Linked DNA regions of Homo sapiens: region 2 is linked to region 1. The links come from fine-mapping of genetic effects on gene expression. Tissue or cell type: cerebellum. Region 1 holds a variant in brackets; the other region holds the start of a gene. All regions are shown on one strand. Distances are between the middles of the regions.

Region 1 (8,178 bases):
GTAGATTGTAGATTGGGTGTGCTCGTTTTTATATTTCATTTTAGGAGCCTCACAGTCTACTCAGAGAAAAATAAAAGAAGGCAAAATGAGTCCTCCCCATTTCCATGCAAGCCAGAACAGTTGGTTGTGTGGGAGCCTCGTGGTGCCCAGCGGAGGACGGCCAGGACCAGCTCCAGCAGCTGGGGTGCAGTGCGGGGCGCAGGGCGTCCAGGTCCAGCTGGTGCAGGTGAGAGCTGGCCAGTCACACAGGCCAGCTGTAGGCGGGGTGGGAGGGTCACGCAGGTCTGAGCAGTGTGCGGCATGCTGCATCCCCTGCCCATCGCAGCACCCCCTGCCTGCCTGCCCCTCGTGCATCCTCCCCTGTAGACTGCCCCAAGTCCTGTCTCCTCACAGCCCAGCTCCTCCCTTTTTCCCAGCCTGTCCTGCATCTGCTCAAGCTCTGAGTGTTGCTGGGACCGTGCATCCACTTCCTGAACCTGTCTGTGCACAGCCCTGCGTCTAGCCCCAGAGTAGCCCGCCTCCCTGCCCGAGGCCCCCAGGGCTGTTTTGCAGCAGGATGAGATCTGTTTGAGGCCACCCTGCCCTTCTTCTGCAGGGCTGGGGCAAAAGGGCTCCGCAGGCCGTCTCAGCCACCCCATTTCTAGGGCGGCCTGCTTGTGGCGCACTAGCAGCCTTTCTATGCTGAAGGTGGTGGGGGTCTTTTCAGTGTTTTTCTATTTTCTTTCCTACGAAACAGAGCCCCTCCAGGGCAGGCCCAGGCCCCTCCCAGCCTGTCCGGGCCACAGATACCTGCAGCTGTGGCCAGTTTCCAGGAGGTCTTTGAGCACACCTGCTTCAGCAGCCCTGAGCACACCTGCATCTTCAGTCTCAGTTTGAGGGGCTGGAATGGGGAGGGAAGATGATTTGGAAGGATTTGGGGAGAGAAGAGATATACAAGCCGGGGCTGTCTGGGTTTGGCCCAGGTGTGTGCCCCTCTTCACCACTCCACTTTGTAGATTCCCTGTGGCAGGGGATGCGGTTGCAGGCCCCACGGAAGTGCGGAGGGTGGAGGTGACGCTGGCTCTGAGTTGGGAAACAGGCACGTTTGTGGGTTCAGAGTCCTGGGAGAGTCTCGCCAAGGAAACAGGACCAGGCCTGGGGCTCAGAGAGGCAAGAGGAGGGGCAGCCTGGGCAGAGGTGGGCTGGGAAGGGGGCAGGGAAGAGGCTGCGGGCAGCTGGGGGTGGCCCTGTGCTGGTTGGAAGCTAGCGGTGAGCGTCAGATGGGGGCTGAAGCTTGTCTTAGAGAGGGGCAGGAGCACTGGTCCTTTGTTTCCAGCTTCTGAAGAGGTAAGAACTCCCCAGGAGCAGGGGCAGGGGGAGGGGGAGGACCATCCAAGGAAACACTGCCTCAGCTGGCAGGGCAGAGGTACAGAGTCAGGACCAGAGGCTTGGCAATAGGGAGACGGTAGGGAAGCTGGTGCCACCGGCAGAACAGGAGCAAGTAGGGGGTATACTTTTAAGAGATGCCTGATTAAACCTGGGTTTGAGTTCTTTTTCTGTCCCTTACCAGCTAGCGTAGTCTTGGTTACTTAAGCACTCCGGGCCTCAGTTTTGTCATCTATGAAATGGGAACAGTAGTGCAGACCTTGACACACAGGAGCTTCTCAAACAGAAGGAATGAGAGGTGCAGAGCAGCAGCACCAGGAGCTCCGCTTCGGGGTGTGAATGGCCATGGGCGGACATGCAGGTGCAGGACAGGCGAAGTGTGGGACAGATGAAGTTTCTAGCCTGGACTGTGAGGGGCCTGGCAGCCTCCCCTCTCAGGAGCCCCTCTACCTGCCCTGGTCCTTCCAGCTGGCCCGTAGGCAAGCTGGGGCATGCAGGGAAGGCCCTCTGTGGGGCCCGAGGATTTGCTGGAGAGCACTCTGGGTACACAAGGTTGGTGGGGGTACAGGGCGTGCCAGGGCACCTGCAAGGAGTTGAGGAGCGTGCCTTAGGAGGGAAATCAGTATTTGGGCTGACTGAGGGGAGGAGCTGGAGAGCAGAAGGTTCCAGGCCCAGCAAAAGCTGCTGGGATCAAGGTGACAGAATGAGAACCAGGTGGGAACAGGTAGTACCCAGCCCCCATAAACAATTCCTGCTGGGTCCTCGGGCCTCCCTTGGAATACAGGGGGTGGGCTGGTTCTGCCACGCATTGCAGCTGGAGGAGACTTCTCAGGTGAGACGAGGACCTTTGCTGCACTCTCACAGACATGTGACAGGCCTTTCTGTGTTGCCTTCCCAGGATGACCCCTCCGGCGAAGGTGTCCTGCCCTCGGCCCGCGGCCCAGCCACCTTCCTCCCCTTCCTCACTGTGGACCTGCCCGTCTACGTCCTCCAGGTCTGGATGCCTTACTGCCCTTTGTTTTTCTTATTGAGACTCGCAGAGCCTTCGACTTCCAGAAGCCTGGCTTCACAGCTGCAGGCTGGTCACTGAGGCCGCGTGGCTTGGGAGGCTCAGTGGGTTGGTTGCCAGGATGTCTTGCTGCCTTCTGGAGAAGGTGGGTGAGTGGAGCTCAGATCTGCAGGACGCTGCAGCTCCTGCTGGTAGACAAAGCAGGAGAAGTTAATATGCTCTTGAAAGTGTTGTGCCTAGGAATTCCAGTTAATTCTCTGGGAAGAGGGCTGGCCAGGGCCCAGCCTGTGGGAGAATAGACTCGGATGAATTCAGTAGTTTGCTTACGTGGTTAAGCTAAGGATGGGTGGCAGTGAATGATTCAGAGTTTGATATGAAATAGCGAAAGCGTATAGCTTATCACATTTCTAACAGTTTGCCTTACGTGTTTATATATTTACAATAAGCCATGCAAATTGTGTTTTAGTTTTTTTGCATTCAAATTGGGCTATTCAGCATTTCCCTCGCAATCAAAACCAAACTTGGACAGAAGCACTGGTGGGAGCAGAGGGCCGGGCACCCAGGCTGCAGAGGGGTGAGCTGGAGGGCGGTTTGGCAGCATGGATCAGAGAACTTCAGAAGTGTCTGCTCCATCCTGCCTGGCAGCCCCCTCCTGGGACTGCTCCTGAAAAAATAAGGTAGTGACATAATCACCGTAGCCCGGAGTCAAATGGTGCAACAGCAGGAACACTTCTTGTAGCAGGAGGAGACAGGCTAGATGGGGCCTCCATAGCCCTGGGCCACATCCTGGTCAGCTGTGAGGGCACAGGCGGACGGACACCTAATACCTGGGAGAGTGCTCACCGCGTGAGAAGTGCGGAGAAAGGGTTGCAGAAGTAAAGATGATTTTGTTTCTGTAAAAAGGCATATGGGTATATGAACATGTGAGGGTATACGTCAATGTGCAGACAGAACAATCTTGAAAAATTTACAGTACAGTATTGAGTTCATTTTTCATCAAAGAACATGTGTTTAGAATAAGGGGAGCCTGTAGTTTTGAGTAAGAGAAGTCAGGTATCTCACCACGGGCCTGGTCAGTGTCCTGCTGTGTGGAGCCACAGGATCCCTCTGCCTCCCCTCCCTCCTCCCTCTTCATGACAATGCTTGGTTTTGCAGGAGGTGCTCCCCTCATCTGGAGGCCCTGCTGGACCGGAGGCCACCCAGTTCCCAGGAAGCACTATCAACCTGCAGGATCTGCAGTGACGGCAGCCTCGGCCTGGGCAGGCCCAAGGCCACGGTCTAGGACACACCTTCCCTGAGACTCATGACATGAGCCTGGGGAGACCTCATTTGGTTTCCGTTCAGAAGACCAGCGTAGCCCTTTTGAGACTTTTGGGTACATTTATCAAAAATGTTTTCCTTTTGTTTTACCAGGAATGAGTTCGGGCTATACTCTTTGAAACTGCCTTTGTGAGCAAAGTGCTTTGGCAAGGCAAGGGTCTCCCTCAGCAGGGCTAGGTGCACTACAGCCTCTTTCCCCGTGTCCCGTTGGATCTGAGCTGTGTAGCACTTGTTGCATTACAAAGAAAAAGACTTCTGCAGGAAATAGGGTAGAGAACAGGCTGTCTAGTCAGATGCAGCTTGATCTGTGGCAAAACCAAGTGTGGTCTTTCAGCTTCAGTGTGTTAGCATCCCAGCACCTGGGATGGGGTTTGTGGGCAAGTTGATTTTGCCACACTGTAGGGCCCAGGTGGTCCCATTGCCACCGTGAAGCCAAATTCTAGCCCAAGTCTGGTAGAGCAGTCGGGCAGCTAGTTTTCGGGGGAGGATGATGTGGTGGGACAGAGGACCTCAGTGGCCTATTACGGAGCCCTCTTCCCAGACTAAATTCATAGCCGAGAGCTCGGGGGGATGGTAGAGTTAAAATTTAAAATAATTTTCTAAATTCTGTATTTGGATATTAGTGTTTAAGTGGTAATTTGGCAACAGTTTATAAAGTGATGTTCTGAATACCATAAATTATGTGTAGGACTGTGATGGCGCGTGTATGTTTTATTATTGAGGTTGATGTGCACATAATACGTCAGTGTATATTTTTACCGAGTGAGGTCTGTCTTGTAAAAGGAGACAAGGTGATCACCTTGCCCATGTTTATTTGTAAGTCTGTCAACTTAGCAATGACACAGGGTCACTCCTAAATGACTTTTTTTTTTTTTTTTGCCTTGTGCCTTTTGAAGTATGTGTTCATTCAGAGGCTGTTTTGATTCTCAGACTGAATCATTCAAACTCTGCCCTGTGTTTGTTTCTTGAATTTGGGGGTGACATCAAGTTTGAGTGAGTCCTCCCTCTGTCTTGTCTCACTCTGAGGTGCTGTCCCCAGGTGCTGTTCCACGTGGAAGAATCCACACCTCGTCGACAAATGGGTCTTCTCCACAGACCGGCGCTCTGTCACCAACTAAAGGCGAGGGGAGAACTTGCCCACCTGGCAGGCTCTTTAGCCCCAAGGTGGCCCGGAGTCCTCCTCCCTCCATGGGAGGCTTTTGGCCACCATGGCGGGTGGAGCCGCACCCACCCCATCTCCAT[G/CG]GGGAGGAGAGTCTTCCCCCAGGAATGCCCTCTCGGCCTCTATTTTTCTCCCATGTGCCTCCCTGGGAACGTCACCGTGAAGTGACTGGGACTGGCACCCAGTGTTCTGGGCACCAAGGTTCCCTGCCGGTGATGGGCCTAACTCCTAGTGCAAATGAATGAAAGTTTTCTTATAGTCATGCACCGAAGGTTTTTCACCTTGGCTTAATTCAAGTAGCTACATATATGGCATTCAGCCCATTGTTTCTCCTTTAGTTGGTAGTGCTGGCCCTGCCATATACCTAGCTGCCTGCTTGTATTTCTTTGGTCTTTGCACAGAGGCTGATCTCACACTACACTCAGCGTGGAATTAGCTTTTGTCTCGCAGAGCAGCTGTTTTAGATGGGAACCAAGGTGTCATGCTCTTGCCCTCAAGCATCTGCTTAGGGTTAAATGATGAACCGGCGGGGTGCTGAGATTTGGCAATGGTGGCTGCATCCTTAAGCAGGCCTTCAAGACTCCAGAGAGACATGAATTTATTCAGGTGAGGAAGGGAGCACACAGGAGACAGAGAGGACTCAGTTGGGCCACTCGAGACCCAGCCCAGTCTCTGCTTCCTCTGCCAACATCTTTGCTAAGCCTTCAGCCAGAACAGCTATGGTCTGCGAAGATTAAGTAAAGAAAAATAGCAGCTCCTCCTCCTCCTTGTCCATCAGTGTGTGCTCAGACTGTTGTTTGATCCTGTGGGCTGGGGGTCGTGAGCGGCATACCAGTGTCCTGCCTCTCTGCAGGGGAAACAAGCCCAGTGAGCCTTGCTGCCTAGTGAGCCGTATGCCCATATACCCCTGCCCCTGGTGCAGGGAGAGGCCCAGCAGCTCCAGTCACCTCCAGGCCACTCTGGTCAGCCCTGCAGGCTGAGGGCTGGAGTTAACTCTGAAATAACTGGGGGTGTGAGTCTGCCTGGCATTTATCAAGCCTGGTCTCTGGAGCACCACCTATTAGATGTGGGGGCAGAGGGACCTGCTTCCTGTTGCCAGGGTCAGAAGGCAGGAAGGGTGGGGGCCTTGGGACACAGCAGTAGGGGGACCCCAGTGACGGGCAGTGAGCAGGGCTTGGGGTCTGGCCGGAGTGTGGGTAGGGTGGTGGGACCCTGCTCCTGAGCAGAGTGTACCTGGCTGGGGTGGGTGGGCATGGCTGAACCAGGCTCAGCCTGGCATGGGCCATGGGCTGGCAGCCTGGGGAAGAGCCCCCTGCAGGAAGCAGGTCCTGGGAGAGGCCTTGCTCCGAAGGCAGCCTGTCTCCCTCAGAGCCTCATTGAATGCCTTCAGAGTGGTAGCATCAGGGGCTTGGGCTGCAGGACCTCAGCTGCCATGCTGTCTTGGGACCCCCTCCAGCAGAGACCCCCCAAGGCGACCCTGCCTACCTTCTTCTTGATCTCAGCCTGGGCGCGCGCCCGGGCCCGCTGCAGATGCTCCTCCTGTAGGATCTTTTGCATCTGGAGCTTCTCTTCTCGAAGTCTGGGTGGCAAGAAATGACATTGAAAACTGGGGGGACCTGGAAGGTGTTGTGTAATCTCCACACGGAGTCCCCAGGCCAGGCCGTGTCCTCCCTCAAGAAAACTCCCAGCTCCTCTTCACCTCTTTTGCCAGGTCAAGTTCTCAATACCTATCCACAGCCAAAGCACCGCTGCTTTTGGCCAAGGTGGCCTAGGCCCAGAGGAGGACAACCAGGGCCCTGCTGCTCCGAGGCCCTGGCTCTGGCCTCCTGCAAGGGCTGAATCTAAGGTTCATCCAGCAGACCCCTCCCAGAGGCACATTTCTCTGAATCTACACCCATGGCCTGATCTGTGCACCTGTGGCCTCCCTTGCCACCATGAAGGCCAGCATCCCCCTGGGGCGAGAGTCCTGTCTCCTTCCTATATATACTCTCAGTCATCAAAGCCTGGTCTAGTGCCCACTCTGAGCAGGGTACCAGGGACCCAGAGGAGAAGCCCCTGTGCTTGGGGGGACGGATGGATGTTTGCAGATTGCGCTGTCTCAGAGCCCTGCACGGGGTGGATGAACCGGGCTGCCCACAGGCCAGGGAAGCCACAACCCCCATCTACCTTGGGTTCAGGCTGGTGTCCCGACAGATAGCAAGCTGCTGCCCATCTGCCCCCCTCCACTCCCCTCTGAGCTGAAACTCCCAAGGCTCTCTGAGCCTCTGCACTTTGTCTTCCGCTCCAGCAACACTGCTGTAGCCATGCCTTCTCTCCTGGGTGCTGGCAGCTGCCCTTGCCCTCAGCCTCCAGCCCCTCCAGTCCAGCCCCAGAGGGAAGAATCTAACCACACCCTACCTGGCCGTGTTTGCCCCACTGCTTAAAGCCCTCCACTGCTGTTCCATGTATTTGAGGCTGACCGTGCTAGCCACACTCTAACTAAGCTCCAGCTCTTCTATCTTCTAGACCCTGTCCCTCCCTGAGCCTCCTGGCCACATCGAGTCACTGTCGTTTGCTCTAGGAAGCTTTCCCTAACCACCCCCCACTTGACTGTGATGCCCCTCTAGATCCCCCCAAGACATGGGCTTTTGTCTCTCATAGCACAGAGCAGGAGGGGCCTGTCTCCTGGGAGTGCTTTGAGGGTGGGGCCTGTATGTGCCCTCTGCCCTCAGGGCCAGCCAGGACACAGCAGCTGGCAGGGAGAGCCTAGAGCTCACCTGATGCGCCGCTCCTTCTCCTTTGCCCTCTCGGCCTGCTCGATCTTGACCTGGGGCACGTGCTCCAGGTTCTCTAGCAGCTCATCCAGCTGGTGCTCAATGATGGTCAGCATCTGCACGGTGCCCAGGTTGGCCTCCTGCTGGGTGCCGGTGCAGTGCCGGTACACATCCAGCACCTTGCAGTTCAGGCTCTCTAGCAGCTTATCCTGTGGAGGAGGTGGCTTCCAGCAGGGTGCTGGCAGGCGGAAACCCACCCCCATGCCAGTGCCTTCAGCGGTGGCCTGCTGACCTCCCAGGGTGGGGGCCACCGCTTGGCACACAGTGGGAGCTCTGAGAACATGGGCTAAAACAGAACTTGGGGAACTGGCTTTTCTTGGCCAGAGCAGCCTATCCCCCGGGCCCCCTGGAGTCAGCCAGATCCCTGGTTCCAGCCCCTCTCCCAGCTGCCTCTGGTGAGCCAACGGGGCCCAGTCCCCTCCTCCAGGGAACCCTGCACCCTGGGCACCCCACAGGGCTATGTCTTCTCTGAGACTGTTCTGACACTTAGAAAACAGATAACAGCCCCTCCA
Region 2 (8,145 bases), 42 kb after region 1:
TGCTGAGTTCATTCATTTGCTCTAGTAACTTCCTTGTGGATTCTTTGAGATTTTCTATATATAGGGTTGTGTCATCTGTGAATAGTTTTACTTCCTCCTTTTCAGTCTGGGTCTTTTACTTCTTTTTTTCTTTTTCTTGCCTAATGACTCTGGCTAGAACTTCTAGTGCAATATTGAACAGCAGTGGTGAAGGTGGGCATCACTGTTTTGCTCTTGATCTTAGAGGGAGAGCTTGCAGGCTAACAGGTTTTGACTGAGGCCTGTGATGTTCCAGGCTCTGGGGGAACAAATGTCACTGCTGGATGGGAGTGAGACAGTAAGCAACACAGGTGAAGAAGGGTCAAAAGGCCAGAGGGTAGAACGTGCCACTGAGAAAATGAAACAGGGAACAGCAATGAGGGATGTAGGGCAGGTGGGGCACCGCGTTTTACCTTGTTTAGGGGAGGCCTCCCTGTGGAGCTGACATCTAAATGAGCTCCTGTGGGGTGTGAGGGAGGGAGTCCCAGGGAAACTGGGGAGAAGAGCATTCCCTGTGGAGGACACAGCAGTGCCAAGACACTGAGTGGGAGTGAACCAGGCCTGGCCTGGCCAGGGCTGCAGGAATGGATGGAGCCGGTGAAGTTGAGAGCTGTTTGCTGCACTCTACTAAATGCTCAGAGAGCAGGCGCCTCCGTCTCATGGCCCTCTGTGCCCCAGCCCAGCACAGTGCCTGACACACGGTAGGTGCTCCATGAACATTAGTGAAGTGACTGTGGGTCCCTGAGTGGCCTGATGTGGGCTGCATGTGTGGATGGCCCACTCTGCCCACGAGGCCACCAGGCCAGGCTTCGGATGTCCCAAGATGAAGGTTAGATTACTGAAGATCATGTTTCTCCACACTGCCAAATTAAACTCCTGCCTCCAGCCCTTCGCATCCCTCATAGCCAGAACTGGCAGGGGGAAGGCCTGGCCATCTGTGGTTTAACAACCTCTCTAGACCCCATGCCCTTCCTGAATGCTCCCATTGTGGGGGACGTGCACTTGAGAAGCAGCAGTGAGAGCCTGCAGGGCATCCTGGCCTGACGCGCATGCACACGGCTCCTTCAGCAGGGGCAAGCCTCTCCCAACCTGCTCCTTCTGGAGTCTTGTACCTGGAGCCTGGTGTCTTGGGAAATATATTTGGCCGCTCAAGGAACAAACTCTCCACACCCACAGTGAGGCTCAGGCAGGGTTCTGGCCCAGAGGGACCAGCCGCAGGCCCTCTCCTGACAAGTCCACGCGCGACCCCAGTGCCTCTCCTGGAACTGGCCCCGCACTGGGCTGGGTGCTGAGGGTGCAGGGCCAGAGCTCCGGGCATTCCTGCAGCCCCCACCCCTGCCCGCCCTGATGCCTCAAAGGAGGCTGTGGCCAAACCAGCCCCTCTGCCAAGGCTTAGGGAACAGCGTTCTCATCACAAAAGTCATAAAGCTAGACACTGAGCAGTCTCCCTCTTAAATCCTTCCCGTCATCTGGGCAGAGGCCAATAGTCCTCCCGGGCCACAGGCCCTACCCAGTTGGCCCATGCTGGCCTCCTGTCTCTCCCTTGAACACACCACGCCCACTCCCACCTCAGGGCCTTTGGGCCTGGCCAGCCGCCTAGAATGCCCTTTCCCTACTTGGCCTCCAGGCCCCTGCCCTGGGCCCTCTGGTTGAGGGGGGGTCCTATCTGTACTTGGCTCAGCATCCCCAAACCTCTCACTCCAGGTGGCTCAGTGTCATTTTGGCCCCTACCTTTGTCCCAGCTCCTGCAGCTGACCCCAGGACACAGAGCTCAGCAGTCCTCTTGACTGAAGCCCCTGGCCAGGTCCCCTGCCCACCTTGCCCATGCCAACCTCCCTGACCCACCTGACTCTGAGACCCCTGGCCCTGGGTGCCAATCCTGGCTCTGCCTGTCTGGCCTGGTTTTCTCACAAATGCACAGGCCCTCAATCAATCTCGAGGAATTACCAATGCCACAGGGTCATAGGGTACCCCAACTAGGCACTCCCCCTCATACCAATAAACAAATCAATATAGTTTACATGTCCTTCAACTGTCTTGTGGTAGCATAATTATCTGCATTGTTTTATGGGCACATTGAGAGTTAATTTGTTATCTATAAACATTTCAAAGCCATCTTTGTTTTTAAACCTTATTCCAGCCCTTCTTCATTTTAAAATTTACTCTGGAGCAAAAAAAGAACGAGAGAGCGTGTGCACACCTAAGTGTAATGGTGGGGGTCACTGTTTATAGCAGCACACTTTCTGAAACAAGCTAATCACCCATATGAACAGAGAATTGGTTAATAAATTATGATACAGCCATACTGAAAGATTACTATTCTACTCAAAAGCACAAAAAGTATAAGGGAATTCTTGATGTATTGATAAGGAACAGTCTCTACAATGTATGGGTTAATTAAAAAAATCAAGGTGCAGACAGGGTTTTCATTGTGTGATCTCCGTGTAAGAAAAGAACAAACCTCATCTACACACATTTGCCTGTATGTGCACTGAGCTGGTAGCCTAGAAGAGACAGGGGACAGTGGCCATCTCTAAGGAAGGGGCACTGTATGCCTTTGACAGGGTGGGAGAGGCTTTTCACAATGAGGGGCTTTTAACACACTTTTGAATTTTGAACCATGGAATACTATGCCTGGTCAAAACCAAATTAAATTCCAATAAAAAAGCTGAAGGGCCCCAGGTAGGCCTGGGCAGCCTCCCTCAGCGTCGCCCTGTGTGAGATCTTGGCAAATGCATGCAATTCCACTAGGGCAGGCATGTTTCATCCAGGGCCTAGCGCCAGCTGACCACCTCCTTGGAGCCCAGCCTGGCATTTGTGGTCAGAGGGGTGCTGAGAGAAGCTCACCTTCACGGTGACACCTTCCTCATGGTCTGTTGTGGGTTGAACTGTGTCATCCCAATTCGTATGTTGAAGTCCCAACCCCTACTGTCTCAGAATGTGATCTTGTTTGGAAATAAGGTCTTTGCAGCTGTAATTCACTAAGCTGAGGCCATTCTGGAGCGGGGTAGGCCTCCAATCCAATGTGATGGGGTCCCTGTAAAATGGGGAAATTTGGACACAGACACACACAGGCAGAATTCCACATGGGCAGGAAGGCTGAGATGGGAGTGATGCTTCTACAAGCCAAAGAGCACCAAGGATTGCCTGCAAAGCTCTGGAAACCAGGAGAGAGGCCCGGAATGGGTTCTCGCTCAGAGCCCTTGGAGGGACCTAGCCTTTTGGACAACTTGATCTCAGACATCCAGCCCCCAGAGCTTGAGAAAACAAATGTCTGTGACTCCAGCCCCCCAGTTTGTGGTGGTGCTTTGTTACAGCAGCTGCAGGCAATCCATATGCCTTGTTTCAAGGGAAGTAGGCAGATCTATGACTCCTGCCTAGTGTTTGGTTTAGAGCTACCTTAACCTGTGAGGGAGCTGGACAGGCTCCGAAGCTGCCCCTGACCTCTGAGAGTGCCCACCCTGGCCCGGTACTTACTGTCATTGGTCATGTTCTTGGAGACTATAGTGGACGGTATCTCAGACATCTTGGCTGAGGCCCAAGAGGTTGATGCAAGGCTTCTCCTCTTCTAAAGGAGATCCTCACCTGAGGAGTGACACAGTGCTTGAGCCTGGTGGTCCCCAAGCCCAGAGCTTCCTTCCCCCTGGGTGGCTGACAGCCACCGACATTTGCTGAGGGCTCACCTTGTGGGGACACCTGCCGGCTCCCTGCCTCTCCCACCCGAGGGTCCACTCTCACCTCCTGGACTTGGCTCTAGCTGCCTACTTTTTCTGTGCTTAGAACACATCAATCTTGGCCTCAAGCCTTTGCATTTTCGGCCTCCTCGGCCAAAAAATATTCTCCCATACCCAGCTGGGGGTGCTGGGCTTCCTTCTCTTCAATTCCGAGCTCAAATGTCACCTCTTTAGAGAGACCTCTCACCATCCCATCCAAAGTGGTTTCTTCCTCCCCACCCCCATGTGGCCTTTATTTTCTTCTCTGCAATTCCCACTATCTGATTATCACTTTAAAAATCCATTCGTTGTCTATTTCCCCCTAAAATGTGAGCTCCATGAGAACAGGGGGGTCTTTTCTGCTCATCCAAGCTCCTGACATACCCTTGGCACTTCTTAACTTCATCCATTGAATGAATTTTCATTTTTGCAGGGGAGGAAGCAGAGATTCAGCGAGGTGTCCAAAGTCACAGTCAGGAGGGGCTGCCTCTGGAAAGGGCCCCCACTCTAAGCTTGTGCCATTCCTGCCGCATTCCTGCTGCAGCCCCCTATTGGGTGAGCCTGGGGTTCGCAGGGTCGCCTCCTAACACCCGCGCTCTGCAAGGCCCCGAGCCACACAGCGAGGTGCACAGGGATGGTAGGACAGATGGGGTGGATGGTAGATGGGTGTGTTTCAAGCAAGTGGCATGCGAGCGGGCAGCCTTGGAAGGCGCCTTGCAAGTCCGCTCCCGGCCACGCGCGCCCCTCGGGCCCTGGTTTCGCACCCCTGCCGCCGCCCCCACGCGCCCTCACGGACCCCGCGCGCCCCCTCTCCCCGGACCGCGAGCGCACCCACCGACCCCGACTGCCCCGGCTCGCTCCGAAGCCTCCGCGCTGCAGTTCTCAGCTCCAGGAGCAGGGCTCTTGGGTTTACGTCTCCAAGGCAACCATTCTTCAGGCTGGCTGTGACGCCACAAAGGCCGCGGAGGCTGGGCGCTTGAGGGCTGGGCCTGCGGGCCGCGGGACAGGGAGGGCGCGGGGCCGGGCTGCTGGGTCCGAGCTCTGGGCACGATGTCCTCCCTGACGCCGCCAGGACAGCGCCTGGCCCAGGCCTGGGCCTGGTGAACGCGGGTTTCTTCCTCTGAGGTTCAACACTCCGCACTTGGGTTGGCTCCTTTCATCCTGATTGGTTTATTCGCCACGTGCCAAGCACTGAAGAGGGCGTGCAGGATGGATACTTTTGGAGCAAAAATAGCCCTGCTTCTTTCCTGGGGAGGGATCGCACTTTCTAGAGGGGCGGTTTTCAAAGTATGGTCTCAGGACTAGCAGCATCGAAAATGCTGGGAACTCGTTAGAAAAGCAAGTTTTCAATCCTCGCCCCAGAATCAGAAACTCGGGGTGGAGCCCAGCAATGTGTGTCCTGACAAGTCCACGCGCGACCCCAGTGCTGGCTAGGGTTGCAAAGCCACTGCTCTACGGAGCGAGCGAGATCCATCATAGTGGGACAAGCGAGAGGATGAGGCCATACAGACCAGGGCAAGTTTTGAGCGCGCAGATCCACCAGCTGCTTGAAGCCAGGGGCACCAGGATGTCTGGTCCCCCAGCTCAGGGATCCTGTCTCCCCACAAAAAGCAGCAGCAGAAGACCCCTCTTTGAGTTCTGAACATGTTCCTAGATTTTCCCAGTATCTATGGGGATTGAGAGATTGATAAAGGCTGCTTGGAGCTGAAAGCACAGTCAGTGACTCATCTTTTCAGGGACATTTAGGGGCTTCTGGGGGGACTCTGGAGCAGTCTGCAGCCCAGCAATGTAGTCCCAGTGAGGATCCCAGCTGTGCCAGGCTCTGCCTAAGGCCGGTGTAGTGGGTGGGAAGACCACATCCACAACAGGAACTCCATTGGAGCTGGGGGTGGGAGTGAGGAGGAGCTCCCAAGATGGAAGGAGCAGGGATCCCTGAATCTTCGCTGGTAGAATAGTGTCCCAACTTGCAATATCCACAGTGGGCTTTGCACAAGGGAGGAAGAATGTTGTATTGTGTTAAGCCACATATGTGATTTGTGCATGTGTGCATGTGCACATGTGTGCACATGTAGTGTGTGTGTGTGCATGTGTGCACGTGTGTGTTCGTTACAGCTGCTATTGTCAAATGTGCTGAAAGACAAGTTGTCCCTTTACCCTTAGGAGAGAGGCTCCTTACACTGACATTCAAAGTCCTCAATGACCCGGCCCCAGCCTACCTCTGCAGCCTTATCTCCCTACAAACCATCAAAGCAGAACAAAAACCTGTCCCTCCGATTTAGGTTTTAGCAAACCACAAGAAGCACTTCATAAACTGGTGACTCAAGTAGAAAAGTAAGTGTTTTTGTAATGGTTTATCTAAATACAAGGTGCTCTAATGAGACTTTTAGGAAGCTAGAACATAAGTGACCCAAAGAGAACAAAGGTACCCAGGCTCCTGCCCATTCATTGTCATCAACAGATCAGTTTATGAACAGTCGTGAATCTCCCCATGAACCTTACAGAGTGTTTTCTATGTGCCAGGTACTGTTCCACGCACTTGACACCAATCCACCCATTTCACCTGCATGATCACCCTGCCTTTGCATGAGTTGCCGGTGTGGACAGAGCAGGGACACAGTGAGACAGCGGATTCCAGCTTTGCTCTTACCTAGAACACACTGCCTCTCACCAGGAATCGTCCTTCCATTTTATGCAGTTATCCCAGACAATGATGCACAAGCTTTGGGAAAAAAACCCCACAAGTCCAAAGGTGTACTTCATAATAAAGGCAAGTTATCTGTCAGTTTGTGTGTTCTGGCCTTTGTTTTTGCTCTTGGTAGCTTACAAGGTTAGAAAGAAAACCACCTAGAAAACGTGACCTGATTTGGAACTTTTAGTCTTAGCCTAACAGGTCTAACTAGAAATACCATTTGCTGATTAAAAGCTAATTTTTAAAATCAGATGCATGATTGGTGGAGCAATGGTGGCTGGCTGGCTGTGTGGTGAATCGTAGTGGCCTGTGAGCTGTCCAGCCCAGGCAGTGGGCATGTGGATGTCTGCTTCAAAATCCTTCCAACATTTCTGTATGTTTGAAGCTTGAAAATGTTCATAATCAAACATTTTGGGAAAAGCTAACAATCTTCTTAAAGGAGAAATTCGTATTTCAGATTTCGTATTTTCCTCCTCAAAGAAGGTATATCAGTCTGGGCTCTCGGGAATAAACAACAGAAAGCAACTATAGCCACTTGGGGGAGAAAAGGACATGGGGGTGCCCCCAGACTCTGTAGGACGATAGGGAATCAAGCTGGGAGATGCTGTAGCCTGGAGCGGAGCCCAAAGCCATCGCAGGCGCGTTCTGGCAGAGAACATGCTGTGATCCGAAGTCTGCTATGCACTCCTGACCGGTAGGCAGCACCTGGATCGCCTGCCTGCACCTCCCGCCTTCCACACAAGATCTTTGGCTTCTGCCGTGGGAGGAGGGACTCAGAAACCAGGGGGGTCAGGAGTAGTCCTGTACCCAGACAGGGTATTCAGAGGTCTACCAGAACGACAAAGCCTGAGAGAGCAGCTTGTATTTCTTTCCTGCAGCACCTGGTCTCACCGTTGTTCTACAGCACAGCAGGCCAGGCTGGATTGGAGAGTCACCTTCAAGGTAAAATGCCTTAGATGCCCAGATCTCTCACATGGGGGTTTTCCTTTTGCTGAGAGGTGGTAGGTTATGGAGAATGACAGCCATGTCTACCGTGCTTCACGGTGAGTCAAGGGCTTTCCACAGGGAGGGCAGTGATATGAGCTCTTTGCACTACTTACACTGACCTAGGAGCCCCTGCATGGGTTGTGGCCTGCAGGACCATGTTTCAGGGGAAAGCTGCAAAGTCCTTAAAGAGTGTCTGAAGCCCCATCCCCCCTCCCTCTCTGGGAACGTGTCCCCAACCAGTGCCTGCCAGGTGCTCTAGCCTGGCATGCTTTTTATATTTTGTGAGCAATCACATTAATCAGATTGCTTTCCTGCCAGCTCAGATGGATGGATAATTTGATTGGAGTCTAGGAAAAAACAGGGATGACTTTTGGCATCCACATCCCAGGCATATCACATTTGACCACAGTGTCAGAGAAACAGTGCTAGTGGAATAAAAAAGAAGGTCTTGGAGCCCAGAGTAAGACTGGGCTCATATGTGGTCACAAGAGACCACATATCCTATGAAGGCGCCTAGATGGAATTGGGGAAACAGGCAAATGGGCAGTGGTGGCTAATGGAGATGGGATTTTGCTCTTTAGGGTGATGAAAGTGTTCTAAAATTAGACTATGGTGAACATTAGATTTACTCTGAATATAGTAAAATGCACTTTAAGTGGGTGAAGTTTAGATATGTAAATTATATCTCAATAAATATTTTCAAAAGGAGAAGAAGAAAGGGGTCCACATTGCCAAGTG

Evidence for each region. PIP is the estimated chance that this variant, and not a neighbour inherited with it, causes the effect.
Region 2: CFAP100 starts here. The variant in region 1 is fine-mapped to the expression of CFAP100 in cerebellum (GTEx, PIP above 0.99).

Annotation. Positions count from the first base shown.
Region 1 is chr3:126,433,813-126,441,990 of GRCh38, reverse strand. It overlaps CFAP100 (cilia and flagella associated protein 100), which reads right to left. Exons shown (of 17, transcript NM_182628.3): 15 at 7,610-7,815; 16 at 6,339-6,432; 17 at 5,435-5,700. The coding sequence ends at 5,587. It overlaps ZXDC (ZXD family zinc finger C), which reads left to right. Exons shown (of 10, transcript NM_025112.5): 8 at 45-226; 9 at 2,264-2,359; 10 at 3,530-4,390. The coding sequence ends at 3,616. It overlaps LOC124906280, which reads left to right and starts at 7,809. Exons shown (of 1, transcript XM_047449418.1): 1 at 7,809-8,178. RefSeq lists an enhancer at 113-748. The variant G/CG (reference allele first, on the strand shown) is at 4,937.
Region 2 is chr3:126,391,400-126,399,544 of GRCh38, reverse strand. It overlaps CFAP100 (cilia and flagella associated protein 100), which reads right to left and starts at 4,636. Exons shown (of 17, transcript NM_182628.3): 1 at 4,567-4,636; 2 at 3,496-3,603. The coding sequence starts at 3,544. CFAP100-DT (CFAP100 divergent transcript) reads left to right here and starts at 4,747. Exons shown (of 2, transcript NR_103789.1): 1 at 4,747-5,246; 2 at 6,252-6,513. LOC107986044 (a long non-coding RNA gene) reads left to right here and starts at 7,297. Exons shown (of 3, transcript XR_001740563.1): 1 at 7,297-7,362. RefSeq lists an enhancer at 1,231-1,740.